Linked DNA regions of Homo sapiens: region 2 is linked to region 1. The links come from fine-mapping of genetic effects on gene expression. A gene starts in region 1. The other region holds a variant in brackets. All regions are shown on one strand. Distances are between the middles of the regions.

What was found.
Region 2: its variant is fine-mapped to the expression of DUS2 in whole blood (TOPMed, PIP 0.92).

Annotation. Positions count from the first base shown.
Region 1 is chr16:68,018,576-68,028,552 of GRCh38, reverse strand. DUS2 (dihydrouridine synthase 2) reads right to left here and starts at 5,269. Exons shown (of 17, transcript NM_017803.5): 1 at 5,202-5,269; 2 at 3,059-3,138. It overlaps DDX28 (DEAD-box helicase 28), which reads left to right and starts at 5,321. Exons shown (of 1, transcript NM_018380.4): 1 at 5,321-7,637. The coding sequence starts at 5,351. The coding sequence ends at 6,973. RefSeq lists enhancers at 5,169-5,408, 5,119-5,869, 5,870-6,620.
Region 2 is chr16:67,994,249-68,004,225 of GRCh38, reverse strand. DPEP2 (dipeptidase 2) reads left to right here and starts at 4,742. Exons shown (of 11, transcript NM_022355.4): 1 at 4,742-4,851. It also overlaps the pseudogene KARS1P3. RefSeq lists an enhancer at 5,803-6,319. The variant T/G (reference allele first, on the strand shown) is at 5,255.

The sequences.
Region 1 (9,977 bases):
ATTCTCTTGCCTCAGCCTCTCGAGTAGCTGGGATTACAGGTGCCCACCACCACGCCCAGCTAATTTTTTGTATTTTTTTTTAGTAGGGATGGGGTTTCACCATGTTGGCCAGACTGGTCTCAAACTCCTGACTTCGTGATTCACCCGCCTTGGCCTCCCAAAGTGCTGGGATTACAGGTGTGAGCCACCGCGCCTGGCCTCTAACGTCTATTATTATGTTGTTATATCGACAAACATCTGCTAGCTCTTTTAAGATCAAGGCAGCGTGTGAGGTATAAAGACACGGAAAGCACTAAGCTCTTAACCTCAAAGAGCTTCTCAGCTCTACAACTGCCATCATCTATCAACTGAACCATGACAACAGTCTCCAAACCAGTCTCTCTGCCTCCAGGCTTATCACTTCCAATCCATGCTCCTTCCAGCCAAAGGGCTCTTTCCAAACGCAAAGATATGATACGCAAAACATGATAGTTCCATTTCTGGACGCCTTCCCTACTGCCTGTAAAATTAAGTCTACACTCTTTAACACAGTAAATATAAGGTCTGGTCTCCACCTTCCATAGAAGCCTCTTTCATCACCTGCCTCCTGCCCTCAGAACTCCCCCATGCTAAGCTTCAGCTATTCTTAAATATTTCTAGTTCCCCAGCCTGGCCTGCTCTCTCTCAGTATGGGATCTCTGAACAAGCTGTCCCTGCCCAGGGGCCACGTCCCTATTCTTCCACCTGGCTGACTCCCTGTAGACTTTTAGAACCTCATCACCTCCTCCTGGAAGCCTTCTCTGACCAACATCTCCCAAAACAGGGTAAAGGCATCTCTGAGCTCATTCCTGTCCTGGCATGGAGCTATCCTGGCAACTATTAATAGAAGAGCAACTATCTGTCAATATGCCTTCTTCACTGTAAGGTGAAAATAGGCACTGTGGCTTGTTCATCACCAGATCCTCATCAGAGAGCATACAATCTGGCATATGGTAGATGCTTAGTGTTTGCTGTAAAAAGAAGTTAATGGCAGCCGGGTGAGGTGGCTCACGCCTGTAATCCCAGCACTTTGGGAGGCCAAGGCAGGCGGATTACCTAAAGTCGGGAGTTTGAGACCAGACCAGCCTGACCAACATGGAGAAACCACGTCTCTACTAAAAATACAAAATTAGCCGGGTGTGGTGGCGCATGCCTGTAATCCCAGCTACTTGGGAGGCTGAGGCAAGAGAATCACTTGAACCCGGGAGGCGGAGGTCACAGTAAGCTGAGATCATGCCACTGCACTCTAGCCTGGGCAACAAGAGCAAAACTCCATCTCCAAAAAAAAAAAAAAACAAGAAGTTAATGGACCAAGTGCAACAAGAGCTATGATCCACTCCATGCTTCAGTCACAGAAGAACTCTATCCCAGCCAAAGTGCATTTAAAGTGCTTTGTTATCACTCAAGTTTGGTTTTAGAGGAGACGAATGACTACTCCAATCTCTGGCTTACCCAGTAAAGGACTACAAGCCCTTTGGCCAACTTGCATGGAGCCATCACTTGAGTGAACAAGATTCACATAAGAAAGCAACAGAAGAGGTTGAGCCCAATTCTGGATACTGATTAGGAAATAATCTGCAGGCAACAAGGATTCATGAATGGCTTTTGAGTCAAAGGGTAACATGGCCATAGCTGTGCTTTTTTTTTTTTTTTTTTTTTCAGATAGACTCTTGCTCTATCACCCAGTCTGGAATGCAATGGCACAATCTCAGGTCACTGCAACCTCCGCCTCCCGGGTTCAAGCAATTCTTCCACTTCAGCCTCCCGAGTAGCTGGGATTACAGGTGCCTGCCACCATGCTCAGCTAATTTTTGTATTTTTGTAAAGAAAGGGTTTCACCACGTTTGCCAGACTGGTCTTGAACTCCTGACCTCGTGATCTGCCCGCCTTGGCCTCTCAAAGTGCTGGGATTACAGGCGTGAGCCACCACACCAGGCCTAGCTGTGCTTTAATAACATCACTCGGGAAACAGAAGGTAGACCAGAGGGTAAAAAACAAAGAGCAGGTAGGGAGCTGGATGAGAAGGAAGGTCAAAGGGTCCAGGAATACTATAGTGATAATGACTGAAAATATGATTACCTGCGCACAGCCCTGCTACAGGTGGGAAAATGGAGGAACAATAAAGTAATACCAATAGCACTTTTTATTGCTGTAATGCTTTGCAATTCCCAAAGTGCTTCATTTATAACTGTGATTCTCAAGCCTAGTTACATCTGGAGAGGTTTCTAAAAATACCAATTTCTCGGCTGGGCACAATGGCTCACATCTGTAATCCCAGCACTTCGGGAGGCCAAGGCAGGCAGATCAACTGAGGTCAGGAGTTCGAGATCAGCCTGGTCAAAATGGCAAAACCTCATCTCTACTAAAAATACAGAAATTAGCCGGGTTTGGTAGCACGTGCCTGTAATCCCACCTACTGGGGTGGCTGAGGCAGAAGAATCACTTGAACCTGGGAGGCAGAGGTTACAGTGAGTCGAGATGGCACCACTGAAGTCTAGCCTGGGTGACAGAGCAAGACCTTGTCTAGGCCTTAACCCAAATCAATTAAATCAGAATGTAAACTCCACAAGGGCAGGGATTTTGGCTGTTTTCCTCACTACCAATGCCTGGCACATGCGTGGTGCTCAGGAAGTATTTGTTGAATGAATGATTGAATGAATGAATGAATATACCATTATTAACTGAGATCCAAGGAACACACCAAGCTCCTGATCTCAGGAGCTTAGATTTTTTTTCACAATAAGGATACCTTTCCTATTTCTAAAGCACTACTTATAAAAATATCTCAGAAAACATTTAGAAGTTAATCAATGTCCTCTGTGAGTGAGGGGGAAAAAAGGTAGGCAGTGTCTAGTGATGTGACAAGAAGAAATTAGTGGCCACGGACACAGACAGGCTTAGGCAAGCTCTAACTCCTGTGAAATTTTGAGGTAATCATATTGTAAGGACTCAAGCATAATGAGAAAACAACTATATATTAACCAGCTACCCTACCCTGGATATTTGAACAAAACCCAAAAACCCAAATGCATATACATACCTATTATTTTGTTCTGATACTTCAGGATTACTTTGATATATGTGTTCTGGCTTTGTACAGAGTAATTCTTTGTTTGATATCTGAAAAACAGTGGCACATGGAAATGGATGAAACCTGTTGGGACAAACATCCAAGGGACCTTTTTTTTTTTTTTTTGAGACAGAGTCTCGCCCTGTCGCCCAGGCTGGAGTGCAATGGTGCGATCTCGGCTCACTGCAACAACCTCCGCCTCCCGGGTTCAAACGATTATCCTGCCTCAGCCTCCCGAGTAGCTGGGATTACAGGCATGAGCCTGGCCCCAAGGAACTATTTGGATAAGGAGAAGCCCTGAGTTTGGAAAGAATCATAAAAGTAGCATAGAATTGGGCCGGGCACAGCGGCTCACACCTGTAATCTCAGCACTTTGGGAGACCAAGGTGGGCAAATCATGAGGTCAGGAGTTTGAGACCAGCCTGCCCAACGTAGTGAAACCCTGTCTCTATTAAAAATACAAAAATTAGCTGGGAGTGGTAGCGCACACCTCTAATCCCAGCTACTCAGATGGCTGATGCAGGAGAATCCCTTGAACCCAGAAGGCAGAGACTGCAGTGAGCTGACATCGCACCACTGTACTCCAGCCTGGGCAACACAGTGAGACTGTCTATAAAAAAAAAAAAAAAAAAAGTATCCAGCCATTGTCAAATATGGTGGGAGGGAAAGGGCAAAATCACCCTTGTTTTAGAACCACTACCCTATCCAATGACTGTTCATTCACCCATCACTACTCAAAACTTTCTCTTCCTACTTCCAGATATTTTCTTGTGGAGAAAAAAAGCCTCTCTTCCTCTGATTTATCTGGTAACTCTCCAGAAAGTCTAATTGTGTAGCACAAGGGTAGAGTGTACTTAAAATTGTGAAAGTTTTTCCTCATACTATTCCAAAAAAAGCAAAGTTTTTATCTTTTCATTGGTATTTGATGAAACTAAAACGTTTTCTCCAGATGTTACGAACCTCCCAGAGAGTTAATCCATAAATATTTACCTTATCTCCCACCCCAGGCACTGCAAATTACAGAAAAGATCTGACACCCATTTTCCAGATCTGTTCAAGAAGTATCTGTTGGGCATGGTGGCTCACGCTTATAATCCCATCACTTTGGGAGGCCGAGGTGGGAAGATCGCTTGAGGCCAGGAGTTCGAGACCAGCCAGGCCTACATAGTGAAACCCTGTCTCTACTAAAAACAGAAAAAATTAGCCGGGCGTGGGTGGTGTACGGCTGTAGTCTCAGCTACTTGGGAGGCAGAGGCAGGAGAATCACCTGAACCCAGGAGGTGGAGGTTGCAGTGAGCCGAGATTGCGCCACTGCACTCCAGCCTGGGTGACAGAACGAGACTGTGTCTCAGAAAAAAAAAAAAAAAAAGTGACTCGTATAGTTCTTGTTTTTACAACCCGAATATCTGAATTCAGGTAAAATATTCTGCCTGACCAGGGCTACATGATAAGCCACGTACTTGATCACTTTGTAGGGTCGCAGCACCCTTCTTACTACTATTTTAGGTAATTCAGGTTTCTGACGGGGAAGCCAGTGGAGCTGAGCGGGCTGCAAGAGGGGTGGGTTCTGGATGAGAAGTTGGGACGCGTGACGAGGGAGTAGAGAGTGAACCTTGGCTTAAAAGGAAGGAAAATAACTGTGAAGAAAAGATGACCCAACTTGAAATAAAACCTGAAGACCTTATCTCCCACTTGAGAGAGAGAAGAAGCTGAAAGCCATCAGCTTGCACTCTGGGCTCACAGACAGAGAGGGTGAGGGGTTGAGCCCAGATCTATGACTTCAGACCCCTGTCTCGGCCCCTAGGCCTGATCATTCATTCAAACTCTCAATAAACACGGATTACCAGACCCTGCGCAGGGAACACATCTGGGAAAACAGCTGCAACCTCGGATACCAGCACGGGACAAGCTATCTCAGGGCAATGAGGAACAACTAAAGAGAATCCCAGGAACCAGGTAACCAATCGCCAGAAGCCCTCCGCCCTCATGGTCCATTGGGTCAAGGCCCCACTGCCGCCTCGTATCGCCAGCCTCCAGTCCTGCCTCCACGACGCGCCCTTCCCCAAGGCTGGCCGGGTCTGGATGTCGCCATCCCCTATTCGGAGCTACAGACCTCGCAGCTGAACTCTTAAAAAGAACCTCGCTTCTTCCTCACGGTGCTCCAGCTCCACACACCGTACTGAGCCTCGCCAGCCACCGTACGCGAGGTCGCGGCGCGTCCGTGACGTCACTGATGTGCGCTTCTCCCGCACTAAGGGAAACATGGCTCTAACGCGGCCGGTGCGGCTCTTTTCCCTCGTGACTCGGTTGCTCCTGGCGCCGCGACGGGGCCTCACGGTCCGCAGTCCCGACGAACCCCTGCCGGTGGTGCGCATCCCAGTGGCTCTACAGCGGCAGTTGGAACAGCGGCAGAGCAGGCGGCGGAACCTCCCGAGGCCGGTGCTGGTTCGACCCGGACCGCTGCTGGTTTCGGCGCGGCGGCCGGAGTTGAACCAGCCGGCGCGCCTCACACTGGGCCGTTGGGAGCGCGCGCCGCTAGCCTCTCAAGGCTGGAAGAGTCGACGCGCGCGTCGGGACCACTTCTCCATCGAGCGCGCGCAACAGGAGGCGCCAGCGGTGCGAAAGCTCTCGTCTAAGGGCAGCTTTGCTGACCTGGGCCTGGAGCCCCGTGTGCTGCACGCACTACAGGAGGCTGCGCCTGAAGTCGTTCAGCCCACAACCGTGCAGTCTAGCACCATCCCCTCACTACTTCGCGGCCGCCATGTCGTTTGCGCCGCAGAAACCGGCAGTGGCAAGACTCTCAGCTACCTCCTGCCGCTGCTTCAACGGCTCTTGGGCCAGCCAAGCCTGGACTCCCTTCCTATCCCCGCGCCCCGAGGCCTGGTCCTTGTTCCTTCCCGAGAATTGGCCCAACAGGTGCGGGCTGTGGCCCAACCCTTGGGCCGCTCCTTGGGCCTGCTGGTGCGGGACCTGGAGGGAGGCCACGGCATGCGTAGGATCAGGCTGCAGCTGTCCAGACAGCCTTCAGCAGATGTGCTTGTGGCCACTCCAGGGGCTCTGTGGAAGGCCCTGAAAAGTCGACTGATCAGTCTGGAGCAACTCTCCTTCTTGGTGTTGGATGAGGCAGACACACTGCTGGATGAAAGCTTCCTGGAACTGGTGGACTACATCTTAGAGAAGAGCCACATAGCAGAAGGCCCAGCTGACTTGGAAGACCCCTTCAATCCCAAAGCTCAGTTAGTGCTGGTAGGAGCCACATTTCCCGAAGGTGTAGGCCAGTTGCTGAATAAAGTCGCCAGCCCAGATGCTGTCACCACCATCACCAGCTCCAAGCTCCACTGTATCATGCCTCATGTGAAACAGACATTTCTGAGACTGAAGGGAGCAGATAAGGTGGCCGAGCTGGTGCACATCCTCAAGCATCGTGACAGAGCAGAAAGGACTGGTCCCTCAGGAACTGTTCTGGTGTTCTGTAATAGCTCCAGCACTGTGAACTGGCTGGGATATATTCTGGATGACCACAAAATCCAACACCTAAGGTTGCAGGGGCAAATGCCAGCCTTGATGAGGGTAGGAATCTTCCAGTCCTTCCAGAAGAGCTCCCGAGACATACTTCTCTGCACAGACATAGCCTCTCGGGGCCTGGACAGCACTGGTGTGGAGCTGGTTGTCAATTATGATTTCCCCCCAACGCTGCAAGATTACATCCACAGAGCAGGGAGAGTGGGCCGTGTGGGGAGCGAGGTGCCAGGCACCGTCATCAGTTTTGTGACCCATCCCTGGGATGTGAGCCTGGTTCAGAAGATTGAGCTGGCGGCTCGCCGAAGGAGAAGTCTTCCAGGACTAGCATCCTCGGTGAAAGAGCCTTTGCCCCAAGCAACCTGATTTTGACAAATCTGATTAAAATGTGATGCTAGAACAGGGATCTTTCCCAGTATCTTGAGTGGGTGACCACACTTGTCAGTGGGAGGCTCTGGGCTGCCCTGTCGGCTCCTTGAGGGCGGGATGAACTGCTTTGTGACTTGGAAAGGTACGCTGCTGGCCAGCATTGGAGAAGAAGCTGCTGAGCATGGCTTTCTGTAGTCTTTAGCAAGACACAAGTGGATTTTGACTTTGTATCATGTCATGATTTCTAACAATAAATGATGTTTTTATGTGCCTCCCCTAAGAATAATTAGCACCGGGGCGGAATTCAGTAGTTTCTGAGGATTCATACACCAAACCTCCACATCTAGGACAAAGGCTCTTTCAGTTGATGTTTTCATTTATAAACATTTAGTTTGTATTTCCTGCCCCCAAAAAGGTATCCATTAAGCCCCCAGGGAAAGGAAAGGAAAGGAAATGTGACTAGCAGTAGACAGAGTTACTCTCTAACAATGCCCAAGACAAACGGGCGTCTTGGCGAAATCTCTGGAAGGTACTGGCAGAAAAGTAAAGGGTAGACGAACACAGAAGTTTTGCTTGTACATTTTCAGGTTCTGCCTTCTATCCCAACTCGGTAGCCGAGAAAGAGGAGAGATGATTAAACGGTTTTACAAAACTGGAAAAATAACCATATAGCATTTTCTTTATATATATATATACGTATATATATATATATATATATATATATACATACGTATATATATATATACACATACATATATATACGTATATATATATATGTATATATATATATACGTGTATATATATATACGTGTATATATATATGTGTATATATATATATACACAAAAAAAAATTACAAAAATCAACCCGGCGTGGTGGCACGCGCCTGTAGTCCCAGCTACTCGGGAGGCTGAGGCAGGAGAATCACTTGAACCTGGGAGGCGGAGGTTGCAGTGAGCCAAGATCATACCACTACACTCCAGCCTAGGGGACAGAGCAAGACTCCATCTCAAAAAAAAAAAAAAAAAAAAGCCGGGTGTGGTGGCTCACGCCTGTAATGCCAGCACTTTGGGAGGCTGAGGCAGGAGGATCACCTGAGGTCAGGAGTTTAAGACCAGCCTGGTAAACATGCGAAACCCCATCTCTATTAAAAATACAAAAAAATTAGCTGAATGTGGTGGTGCACGCCTGTAATCCCAAATACTTGGGAGGCTGAGGCACAAGAATGGCTTGAATTCTGGAGGCGAAGGTTTCAGTGAGCCAAAATTGCACTTCTGCACTCCAGCCTGGGTGACAGAGCTGATATTCTGTCTCAAAAAAAATAACAGAATCCTGAGCCCCACTCCAGATGGGATTAAGCTCTCTAAAGTTTGACCTGAGAATACTCTTTGTAAACTCCCCCAGGTGATACTTGGGCCCTCCCAAATTGATAAACCATTTGTCTATGCTGTACTGCCTTTCCCAGAGTCCCAGCAAATTCCTGTAAGGCTTTGTACCCCCACAAGACAAGAGGGATGCTTCCGGACAAGTACTCTCTCCAGAGCCTTGGAGAATCTGAGTGATCTCATGCTAGCCCTCCTGCCAGAACAGACTTCCCAGGAACCATCCCCTTGATATTTTACCTCCTACCACTCCCTGCAGGCCATCAATTAGCACCACACTAAAGCAACTTATGAGAGAAGGTGCTATGATTCTCAACCGGGGTGACCCAGTCTCCAAAGATCGGGCCGTCTCTACCTCCTGGGCATATCCCCTCTGCAATAACCCCACTAAATAAATGTCCCATGTTTGCTTTTTCAAGGCCAGTAATAGGGAGACCTCTCCTTAAGGTCATCTCTCTTTGGTAGGAAGTTCTTGGCCACACTGAACCAAAGGCTGCTCCTAGTGTGGTCCTGATCAGGCTAAGGGCAGAGTTGCCTGTTTCCTTTGAGTAGGACCAAATCGCCTTTTTTTAAATATAAAAAAAATAGACACAAGGTCTAGCTATGTTACCCACGCTGGTCTCAAATTCCTGGGCTCAAGAGATACTCCTGCCTCCACCTCGCAAAGTGCTAGGATTACAGGTGTGAGCCGCCACGCCTGGCCCTAATGACCTTTTGGTACCTCTCCACAGTGCTGACCTGGGCTGCTGCTGGGAGCTAAACCTCATCCTTTCATAGTGATAAGATTGTCATTGTTTGCCTATTTAAAGAGAGGGCAGTGTAATGATAAGGTTATGATTTTGTATTGTTATCTTTTTTTTTTTTTTTGAAACAGAGTCTTAACTCTGTCACCCAGGCTGGAGTGCAGTGGCACAATCTCGGCTCACTGCAACCTCTGCCTCCCAAGTTCAAGCAATTCTCGGGCCTCAGCCTCCTGAGTAGCTGGGATTAGAGGTGCACACCACCATGCCCGGCTAGTTTTTATATTTTTAGTAGAGACAGAGTTTTGCCATGTTGGCCAGGCTGGTTGTGAACTCCTGGCCTCAAGTGACCCGCCTGCCTCAGCCTCCCAAAGTGCTGGGATTACAGACATGAGCCAAGGCACCTGGCCAGTCATTTGGGATTCTTATCTTGTCATGAATTTGTTTGAATTTCATGTTAAAATAGGTTCATCTGTAGACGTGACATCTCACTCCTATAATCTCAGCACTTTGGGAGGCCAAGGCAAGAGGATCACTTGAGGCCAGGAGTTCCAGGTTACAGTAAGCTATGATGGTGCCACTGTATTCTAGCCTGGATGACAAAATGAGACCCTGTTTCTGAAAAAAGAATAAATTTTAAAAATAGAACCATCATTCGCACTTCATACAGTCATTTGGGAGCCTCATTTTGCCTTGGGGCACATTTAACATACCTCCAGTGTACATCACCTTTAAATGTGATGAGCTTGTCCTCACATTCTTAACAGCTATAATTCTGGAGCCCCAAATGAAGCCCTGCGGATCAGAATGCCTCTCTGCTACCTGTATGACCTTGGATGGACCCCTAACCTCTTGGCGTTCTTGAATCTTAGGTGGTAAAA
Region 2 (9,977 bases), 24 kb after region 1:
CAGGCTGGAATGCAATGGCACAATCTCAGCTCACTGCAACCTCCTCCTCCCTAGGTTTAAGCAATTCTCCTGCCTCAGCCTCCCTAGTAGCTGGGATTACAGGCGTGCGCCACCACGCCCGGCTAATTTTGTATTTTTAGTAGAGGTGAGGTTTCTCCATGTTGGTCAGGCTGATCTCGAACTCCCAACCTCAGGTGATCTGCCTGCCTGCCTTGGCCTCCCAAAGTGCTGGGATTATAGGCGTGAGACACAGTGCCCAGCCATGAACTTCTATGATCTTTGAGCAGAGGGGGTCAAGTTGCAAGTCATGGCCAATTTCAGGAATTATAATTTCAGGAAGAATAATTTATTCATATTAATAACAAACTGCGTTGGGGAAACATAATTGGAATTCAGAGGAATCCTGGGAAAAACCAAGAAGGATGAGCTGAGCTTCATTCCCTATGAGATCACACTGCTGTGGCCTTGCTTGTATATGTTACCTCATCTTCACTTTGGCCTCAAAGACAAGGAAATAAGGTATGGTCAGAGATACTTGGACTTGATCCTGAATGAATGAGGCAGAAATTTATCATCTGCTGTAAGATCATCACATGTATAATAAGTTTCTTAGGCCAGGTGCAGTGGCTCACGCCTGTAATCCCAGCACTTTGGGAGGCCAAGGCAGGCAGATTGCCTGAGGTCAGGAGTTCGAGACCAGTCTGGACGACATGGTAAAACCCCACCTCTACTAAAAATACAAAAATTAGATGGGCGTGGTGGCAGGTGCCTATAATCCTAGCTACTCAGGAGGCTGAAGCAGAATTACTTGAACCCAGGAGGTGGAGGTTGCAGTAAGCCAAGATTGCACCACTATACTCCAGCCTGAGCAACAAGAAAACTCCATCTCAAAAAAAAAAAAAAAGTTTCTTGGATGAGCTGGGATTCCTAGAGCTTGAAACTCCCATGAATGAACGTCATCCCAGGGGAGCTATGACCAAGCCTTTCATCACTTATCACAACAAGCTGCACATGAACTACTCTAGAACTCTACCATAAGATGCTAGTGGTTGGTGGCATTGACCAGGTTTATGAAATTGCATTCCAGTTCTGGAATGAAGGAATTGATTTGACGTAAAATCCTGAGTTCAGCACCCCTGAGTTCTACATGGCCTAGACTATCACAATCTCACGGAAATCACGGGGAAGATGGTTCCAGGGATGGTGAAGCATAATACAGGTAGTTACAAGGTCACCTACTACCCAGATGTCCCAGAGGGATAAGCCTGCAATATTGACTTCACCCTACCCTTCCGGAGAATCAGCATGATAGAAGAGCTTGAGAAAGCCCTGGGGGTGAAGCTGCCAGAAAATAACCTATTTGAAACTGAAGCAATTGGCAAAATTCTTGATAATATCTGCGTGCAAATGCTATTGCGTGCCCTCCACCTAGGACCACAGCCAGGCTCCTTGACAAGCTTGTTGGGGGAGTTCCTGGAAGTGATTTGCAACAATTCTACATTCATCTGTGATCACCCCCAGATAATGAGCCCTTTGGCTAAATGGCACTACTCAAAAGGTCTGACCCAGCGCTTTAAGCTATTTGTCATAAAGAAAGCGATAAGCAATGCCTACACTGATCTAAATGATCCTATGCAGCAGTGGCAGCTTTTTGAAGAACAGGCTAAGGCCGCAGGTGATGATGAGGCCCTGTCCGTAGATGAAAACTTTGTTGCCGCCATGGAATACAGGCTGTCCCCCACAACTGCCTGGGGCATGGTTATTGACCGAGTCACCATGTTTCTCACAGATTCCACCAGCAACTCGGAAGGCTGAGGCAGGAGGATTGCCTGAGCCCAGGAGTTTGAAGTTTCAGTGAACAACACAGTGAGACCCTGTCTCTAAAAGGAAATTTTTTTTTTTTGAGACAGAGTTTCGCTCTTGTTGCCCAGGCTGGAGTGCAGTGGCACGATCTCAGCTCACTGCAACCTCCGCCTCCCGGGTTCAAGCGATTCTCCTGCTTCAGCCTCCCAAGCAGCTGGGATTACAGGTGTGCACTGCCACACCTGGCTAATTTTTGTATTTTTTATAAAGACGGGGCTTCATCATGTTGCCCAGGCTGCTCTCGAACTCCTGAGCTCAAGCAATTCACCTGCCTTGGTCTCCCAAAGTGCTAGGATTACAGGCGTGAGCCACCATACCCAACCTTTTAAAATTTTTTTCTTTTCTTTTCTTTATTCCTTCCTTCCTTCCTTCTTTTCTCTTTTTTTAATCTTACAAAAAATGTTTCGGAAAAGGTATTTTATTTTTAAGACAGGGTCTTGCTCTTTCCCAGAGGCTGGAATGCAGTGGAGCGACCATAGCTCACTGTGGCCTCTAACTTCTGGGCTCAAGCAATTCTCCCACCTCAGCCTCCTGAGTAGCTGAGACTACAGACATGTGCCACCATGACCAGCTACTTTTTAAAAAATTTTTTTGTAGAGAAGGGGTCTCACCATGTTTCCCAGGCTGGTCTTGAACTCCTGGCCTCAAGCAATCCTCATGCCTTGGCCTCCCAAAGTGCTAGGATTACAGGCATGAGCCACCATCTCTTGTCCCCTGAGATACTTTTAATGGCCTTGCTGGATCCAGCTCCTGCACCCCAGGGCCCTCCTGCCTCCTCCCCACCCTCGGCTGATGGCACTACCTCAAGGACATGGGATAGCATGCAGCCTTCTGTCCCAGATCCTCTGTACTGTCTGAAATCAGGCAGAACCCAGCTGCAAGAGGAACTCAATGGTACACATGGGACCCAAGTCATCAATCGTCTCCATCAGAAAGCAACCCAGGGCCAGGCACAGTGGCTCAGGCCTGTAATCCCAGCACTTTGGGAGTCCAAGGCGGGTGGATCACCTGAGGCCGGGAGTTCAAGGCCAATGTAGTGAAATCCCGTCTCTACTAAAAATACAAAAATTTGCTGGACATGGTGGTGCATGCCTGTAGCCCCAGCTACTAGGGAGGCTGAGGTTGGAGAATTGCTTGAACCTGGGAGGCGGAGGTTGCAGTGAGCCAAAGTGGCACCACTGCACTCCAGCCTGGGCAACAGAGCAAGATCCTGTCTCAAAAAAAAAAAAAAAAAGAAAAGAAAAAAGGCCGGGCGCAGTGGCTCATGCCTGTAATCCCAGCACTTTCAGAGGCCAAGGCTGGTGGATCACCCGAGGTCAGGAGTTCGAGACAATCCAGCCTCATCAACATGGTGAAACCCCATCTCTACTAAAAAAAATACAAAAATTAGCCAGCCTGGTGGTGCATGCCTGTAATCCCACGTACTTGGGAGGCTGAGGCAGGAGAATCGCTTGAACCTGGAAGGTGGAGGTTGCAGTGAGCCGAGATCGTGCCCTCGCACTCCAAAAAAAAAAAAAAAAAGCACCCCAGGAATGTTGGACAGAGAGGCTGGCGGGGTAGGGGTTGGTTGGTAAGGCTTGAGCAGAAGGTTCTAGATGCATTCAGGAGATAAAGATGCATTTGGGGTTATTGCACTTCTCCTAGAAACATAAACATTGACTTCCTTTTGTGGAAGAAAAATGTTATGTTAGCTATTTGACGTTTCAGGAAGGGTGGCTTCAGCTTGGTGATTGGAGGATGTTTGTCTACAGTGGCCAGGCTGCTTTCTGGCTTGGAAGACTATTGTTTCTTGGGAATTGTCTGTATCAGACATCATGGGAGCAGATCCAGGGCGACATCAAAGGGAAGCATGAGTCTCCAGGACCAGAGGGGCTTGGATGCAGATGATCATCATCTGGGCACTGCTGGATACTGAGTAAGCCCCAGCTGCACCCCACCTCTGCGCTCTGAGCATGGGAGGCAGCCTGTGCAGCTATAACTCAGCCTGACTTTTTCCTTCCCTGCATACTCTTGAAATACACTGGAGATGAGTAGGGGCGAGTGAGCTGCACACCAGAATAAGTTTGGTCCTTGGAGCAAACTGTTTCTACTGCTGCCTCCTCTGCAGGTCTTGATTTATGCAAACACTGCATAGAAGAGGAAGTAGAGGGAAAAGCTGTTCACCCACCTACTCCTTCCTGGTAGCAAGATTTCCTATCCTGGCCTTGCCTCAACAGCCCTACCAATTGGAGGCTGAGGTTGTGCCAAGGCTCTATGGGGGGACGTAGCATCACTGAGGTGGCCAGATTTTGGAGGACAGGAAAGTTTGTGCTATTTGCTGAGACTGGAGAGGCTGGTGAGAGCAGACTCTCCATGAGTTGAAAGCCAAAGAAAGAAATTCGGTAGATTTCTGCAATGAGAAGCCACGGAAGAACTTCAGGCAGGAGGATGCATTGGATCTTGTTTTCGTTTTGTTAGAGATGGGGTCTCACTCTGTCGCCCAGGCTAGGGAGCAGTGGTGCCATCGTCTCTCACTGCAACCTTAAACTCCTGGGCTCAGGCGAACCTCCCACCTCAGCCTCGTAAGTACCTGGAACCACAGGCATGCACCACTTTTTTTTTTCCTTTTTCTTAGAGTTCTCATTATGTTGCCTAGACTGGTCTCAAACCTCCGGCTTCAAGAGATCCTCTCACCTCGACCTTCAAATTACTGGGATTACAGGCATGAGCCACCATGTCCTACCAGACTTTGTTAAAAGAGGAACAGGCCAGGCATCGTGGGCTCACATGAACACTCATGCCCCAGAAGTAAACAAGTGTTAGCCAACCAGGAGGCCTATCCTCCCCCTAACCTCACCCAAAGCCATCTCTGTGCCCTCCCCCTTGCAGGGGAAACAGCACACACTAGTGAAATCTTGTCTTAGTGTGTCCGGAATTGGTGGGTTCTTGGTCTCACTGAGTTCTAGAATGAAGCTGCAGACCCTCGCAGTGAGTGTTACAGCTCTTAAGGTAGCGCGTCTGGAGTTTGTTTCTTTTGATGTTTGGATGTTTGGAGTTTCTTCCTTCTGGTGGGTTTGTGGTCTTGTTGGCTCAGGAGTGAAGCTGCAGACCTTCGTGGTGAGTGTTACAGCTTTTAAGGCAGTGCGTCTGGAGTCGTTTGTTCCTCCCAGTGGGCTTGTGGTCTCGCTGGCTTCAGGAGTGAAGCTGCAGACCTTCGCGGTGAGTGTTAAAGCTCATAAAAGCAGCATGGACCCAAAGAGTGAACAGTAGCAAGATTTACTGCAAAGAGCAAAAGAACAAAGCTTCCACAGTGTGGAAGGGGACCAGAACAGGTAGCCACTGCGGGCTCAGGCAGCCTGCTTTTATTCTCTTATCTGGCCCCACCCACATCCTGCTGATTGGTAGAGCCGAG[T/G]GGTCTGTTTTGACAGGGTGCTGATTGGTGCGTTTACAATCCCTGAGCTAGACACAAAGGTTCTCCACGTCGCCACCAGATTAGCTAAATACAGAGTGTCGACACAAAGGTTCTCCAAGGCCCCACCAGAGCAGCTAGATACAGAGTGTCAGTTGGTGCATTCACAAACTCTGAGCTAGACACAGGGTGCTGATTGGTGTGTTTACAAACCTTGAGCTAGATACTGAGTGCCGACTGGTGTATTTACAATCCTGAGCTAGACGTAAAGATTGTCCACGTCCCCACCAGACTCAGGAGCACAACTGGCTTCACCCAGTGGATCCCGCACCAGGGATGCAGGTGGAGCTGCCTGCCAGTCCTGCGCCATGCGCCCGCACTCCTCAGCCCTGTGGTGGTCGATGGGACTGGGCGCTGTGGAGCAGGGGGCGGCGCTCACCGGGGAGGCTCCGGCCGCACAGGAGCCCATGGAGGGGGTGGGAGGCTCAGGCATGGAGGGCTGCAGGTCCCGAGCCCTGCCCCCCCGGGAAGGCAGCTAAGGCCCGGTGAGAAGTCGAGCGCAGCGCCTGTGAGCTGGCACTGCTGGGGGACCCAGTACATCCTCCGCAGCCACTGGCCCGGGTGCCAAGCCCCTCATTGCCCGGGGCCAGCAGGGCCCGCGGGCCGCTCCGAGTGCGGGCCCGCCAAGCCCACGCCCACCCGAAACTCCAGCTGGCCCGCAAGCGCCGCTCGCAGCCCCGGTTCCCACTCGCGCCTCTCCCTCCACACCTCCCTGCAAGCTGAGGGAGCTGGCTCTGGCCTTGGCCAGCCCAGAAAGGGGCTCCTACAGTGCAGCGGTGGGCTGAAGAGCTCTTCAAGTGCCGCCAAAGTGGGAGCCCAGGCAGAGGAGGCCCCGAGAGCGAGCGAGGGCTGTGAGGACTGGCAGCACGCTGTCACCTCTCATTAGGAGCTGCCAATATCAGTGGCACAGACCTGAGCACAGGGATAATTTGGGGTCAGAGGCTACAGTCTAAGTTAGCTAGATGCTGGCAGTGGGCAGAGTGGAAACAAGGCAGAGGCGGGGAAACTCAGGGCCTGACTCCAGAGCCGACCTTAAGTGTCACCGCTGATTCCTCCTTACTGTCTCCCACCAACCCTGCTTCAAAGCATCTCCAAATCCTGGGTTCAACTTCCAAACATGTCCCAGGAATGTCTCCTTCCTGTTCCCACTGCTTCTCCCCCTTACAGGCCCCTTCATTCCTTACCCCTCCTGATCTCCTGGCCTCCAGCCCATTCCCTACAGAAAAGCCATACCTATTTCTTCCATTTTAAAAAATGTGAGCTGGGCGCGGTGGCTCATGCCTGTAATCCTAGCACTTTGGGAGGCCAAGGTGAGTGGATCACGAGGTCGGGAGATCAAGACCATCCTGGCTAACACGGTGAAACCCCGTCTCTACTAAAAATACAAAAAATTAGCCGGGCGTGTTGGCGGGCACCTATAGTCCCAGCTACTCGGGAGGCTGCGGCAGGAGAATGGCCTGAACCCGGGAGGCGGAGCTTGCAGTGAGCCGAGATTGTGCCACTGCACTCCAGCCTGGGCGACAGAGCGAGATTCCATCTCAAAATAAATAAACAAATAAATATAAAAATAAAAAATTTGGCCAAGGGTCGGGGGTGGCTCATGCCTGTAATCCCAGCACTTTGGGAGGTCAAGGCAGGCGGATCACCTGAGGTCAGGAGTTCGAGACCAGCCTGGCCAACATGGCAAAACCCCATCTCTACTAAAAATACAAAAATTAGCCGGGAGTGGTGGCATGCGCCCGTAATCTCAGCTACTCGGGAGGCTGAGGCAGGAGAATCACTTGAACCCAGGAGGCAGAGATTGCAGTGAGCCAAGATTGCACCATTGCACTCCAGCCTGGGCAACAAGAATGAAACTCTGTCTCAGAAAATAATAATAATAATAATAATAATAATAATAATAATAATAATAATATCATTATCTATTTTTTTACAGACAGGGTCTTGCCCTGTCACCCAGGCTGGAATGCTATGGTGTTATCATAATGCTCACTGCAACTACAAGTGTGGGTGTGTCTGTGATTCGCTTTGTATGGTCCCCTCAAGGCCACATTTGAGGACTGAAGTTGCATATCATGGAAAATTGTGTTGTCTGGCTTATCTCCTACAGAGACAGTGCTCACTTTTACTGGCTCAACTCAGCCTGCCTCTGCTGAGCTAGCAGGTACCCCAAGTCCCAGGAGGTCAGACATTCGGGCTCTGGAGAGAAGCTTAAAAAAAAATGCAAAAAGTTGGCCGAGTGCGGTCGCTCACACCTATAATCCCAGCGCTTTGGGAGGCCGTGGTGGGTGGATTACCTGAGGTCAGGAGTTCAAGACCAGCCTGAACAAAATGGAGAAACCCCATCTCTACTAAAAAATACAAAATTAGCCAGGTGTGGTGGCACATGCCTGTAATTCCAGTGACTTGGGAGGCTGAGGCAGGAGAATCACTTGAACCCAGGAGGTGGAGGTTGCAGTGAGCCAAGATCACATCATTGCCCGCCAAGATCACATCATTGCCCTCCAGCCTGGGCAACAGGAGCAAAACTTTGTCTCAAAAAAAAAAGAAAAAAAATTCAAAAAGTTGAATTCTCCTCACCTACTCTGTCAGCTGTTATTTATTTATTCCTACCTACCCCTTCCTTATTTTTACATTTTTCAAACTGACAAATAATAATTGACCAGCCTGGGCAATATAGTGAGACCCTGTCTCTAAAAAAAAAAAAAAAAATAGCCGAGTGTGGTGGCGAGTACCTGTAGTCCCAGACTCGGGAGGCTGAAGTGGGAGGATTGATTGAACCTGAGAGGTTAAGGCTGCAGTGAGCTGAGACTGCACCACTGCAGTCCAGCCTGGGTGACAGAGCAAGACCTTATCTCAAAAACAATAATAATAATAATTTGCACATATTCATGGGGTACATAGTGATTTTTGTTGTTGTTGTTGTTGTTGTTGTTGTTGTTTGGCGGGGGGAGACAGGGTCTCGCTCTGTCATCCAGGCTGAAGTTCAGTGGCCCAATCTCGGCTCACTGCAACCTCTGCCTCCTGGGTTGAAACGATTCTCCCAACTCAGCCTCCCAGGTATTTGGGACTACAGGCGCGCACCACCAAGCCCGGCTAATGTTTGTATTTTTAATAGAGATGGGGTTTCCCCATGTTGGCCAAGCTGGTCTCGAACTCCTGACCTCAGATGATCCACCCACCTCGGCCTCCCAAAGTGCTGGGATCACGGGTGTGAGTCACTGCGCCCCACCCATAGTGATGTTTCAATACATATAACACATAATGATCAGGTTCAGTTCCTCATTCTTTATGCCCCTTACCTCTTGGGGCTCTCAGAATAAACTGTTTATCCCCAAAACCACATCTTTGACCTGGAGACCAGCAAATCCAAGAGCTTCTCCTCCCTCTCACTATTCCAGTGGGTGTGGGGAGCTGCTGACCAGCAGTGGATGATGGAGAGAAGGAGGGAAGCCTGTGTTGGGGTACCCAAACCACCCAGATCTGGGACACGCCCTACTGTTCTCTGAAGCAGAGCCCAAGAGGACTCACCATCTGCAGTGGGCCTCCCTATAGAACCCTCCAGCAGGGCTGGGCACAGTGGCTCACATCTATACTCCCAGCACTTTGGGAGGCCAAGGTGAGATCATCACTTGAAGCCAGAAGTTTGAGACCAGCCTGGGCAAGAAGGCAAGACAGTCTTTAATTAAAAAAATAAATAAAAAATAAAAAAAAAGCCCAGGTGCGGTAGCTCACTCCAGTAATCCCAGCATTTTGGGAGGCTGAGGCAGGCAGATTGCTTGAGACCAGGAGTTCGAGACCAGCCTGGGCAACATGGCAAAACCCCATCTCTACTAAACAACAAAATTTAGCCGGGCGTGGTGGCGCATGCCTGTAGTCCCAGCTACTCGGGAAGTTAAGGCACAAGAATCGCTTGAACCCAGGAGGTGGAGATTGCAGTGAGCCAAGATTGTGCCACTACCCTCTAGCCTGGGCAACAAAGTGAGACTCTGTCTCAAAACAAACAAAAAAAGACCCCCTTCGGCAGCAGTAGACGTGACAGTTAACCCACCTCGAGCACTCGGCCATCGATCTGCCTTCCTCCTGGACAGCAGACACTGGGCAACATCAAGTGTGCAGTCCCTAAAATACATCAAAGCTGGGATCACTTCCCCTCCTGGGTAGCTTGGGACCTCCAGTCCCTTTGGAAGAGTTGGTTCATTTTCTTTTTAGGAGGCCTTCTTGAATCTCTAGTCGTCGTCAGGCTTAGGTCACACTACCCATGCACTGATCAGCCCTGCCACGTGGGGGAGGCTCCAAAAAATGAAGCGGTTCCAGGGGTGCCAAGGTTCAGAGCAGAGTCTTGAGAGCCTGAGGGGCAGGAGGAGGCAAAGGTCTCTGAGGACGAAGGGGTTTGGCCACAGTCCCGGAAGATCTCAGGTCGTGGGGCTTCTGTGAGCGGGCACATCCCCTGTGCCTGTGTGATTGTGAGCTTGTGTGCTTGTGTGGTTGGGGGTCCTTCCTGGAGGAGGCATCTAGGTTGAGGGCCCCAGGCCGGGAATGGGGTGGGGCCTGTCGTCAAGGAAGGGACTCAGCCCTGGAGGTTTCTGTGAGAGCTCAAGCCACAGGAGCCACAAGATAAGAGGAGTGTGGCTGCAGAACCCAGGTGGCAGGGCTTTCCTCAGGC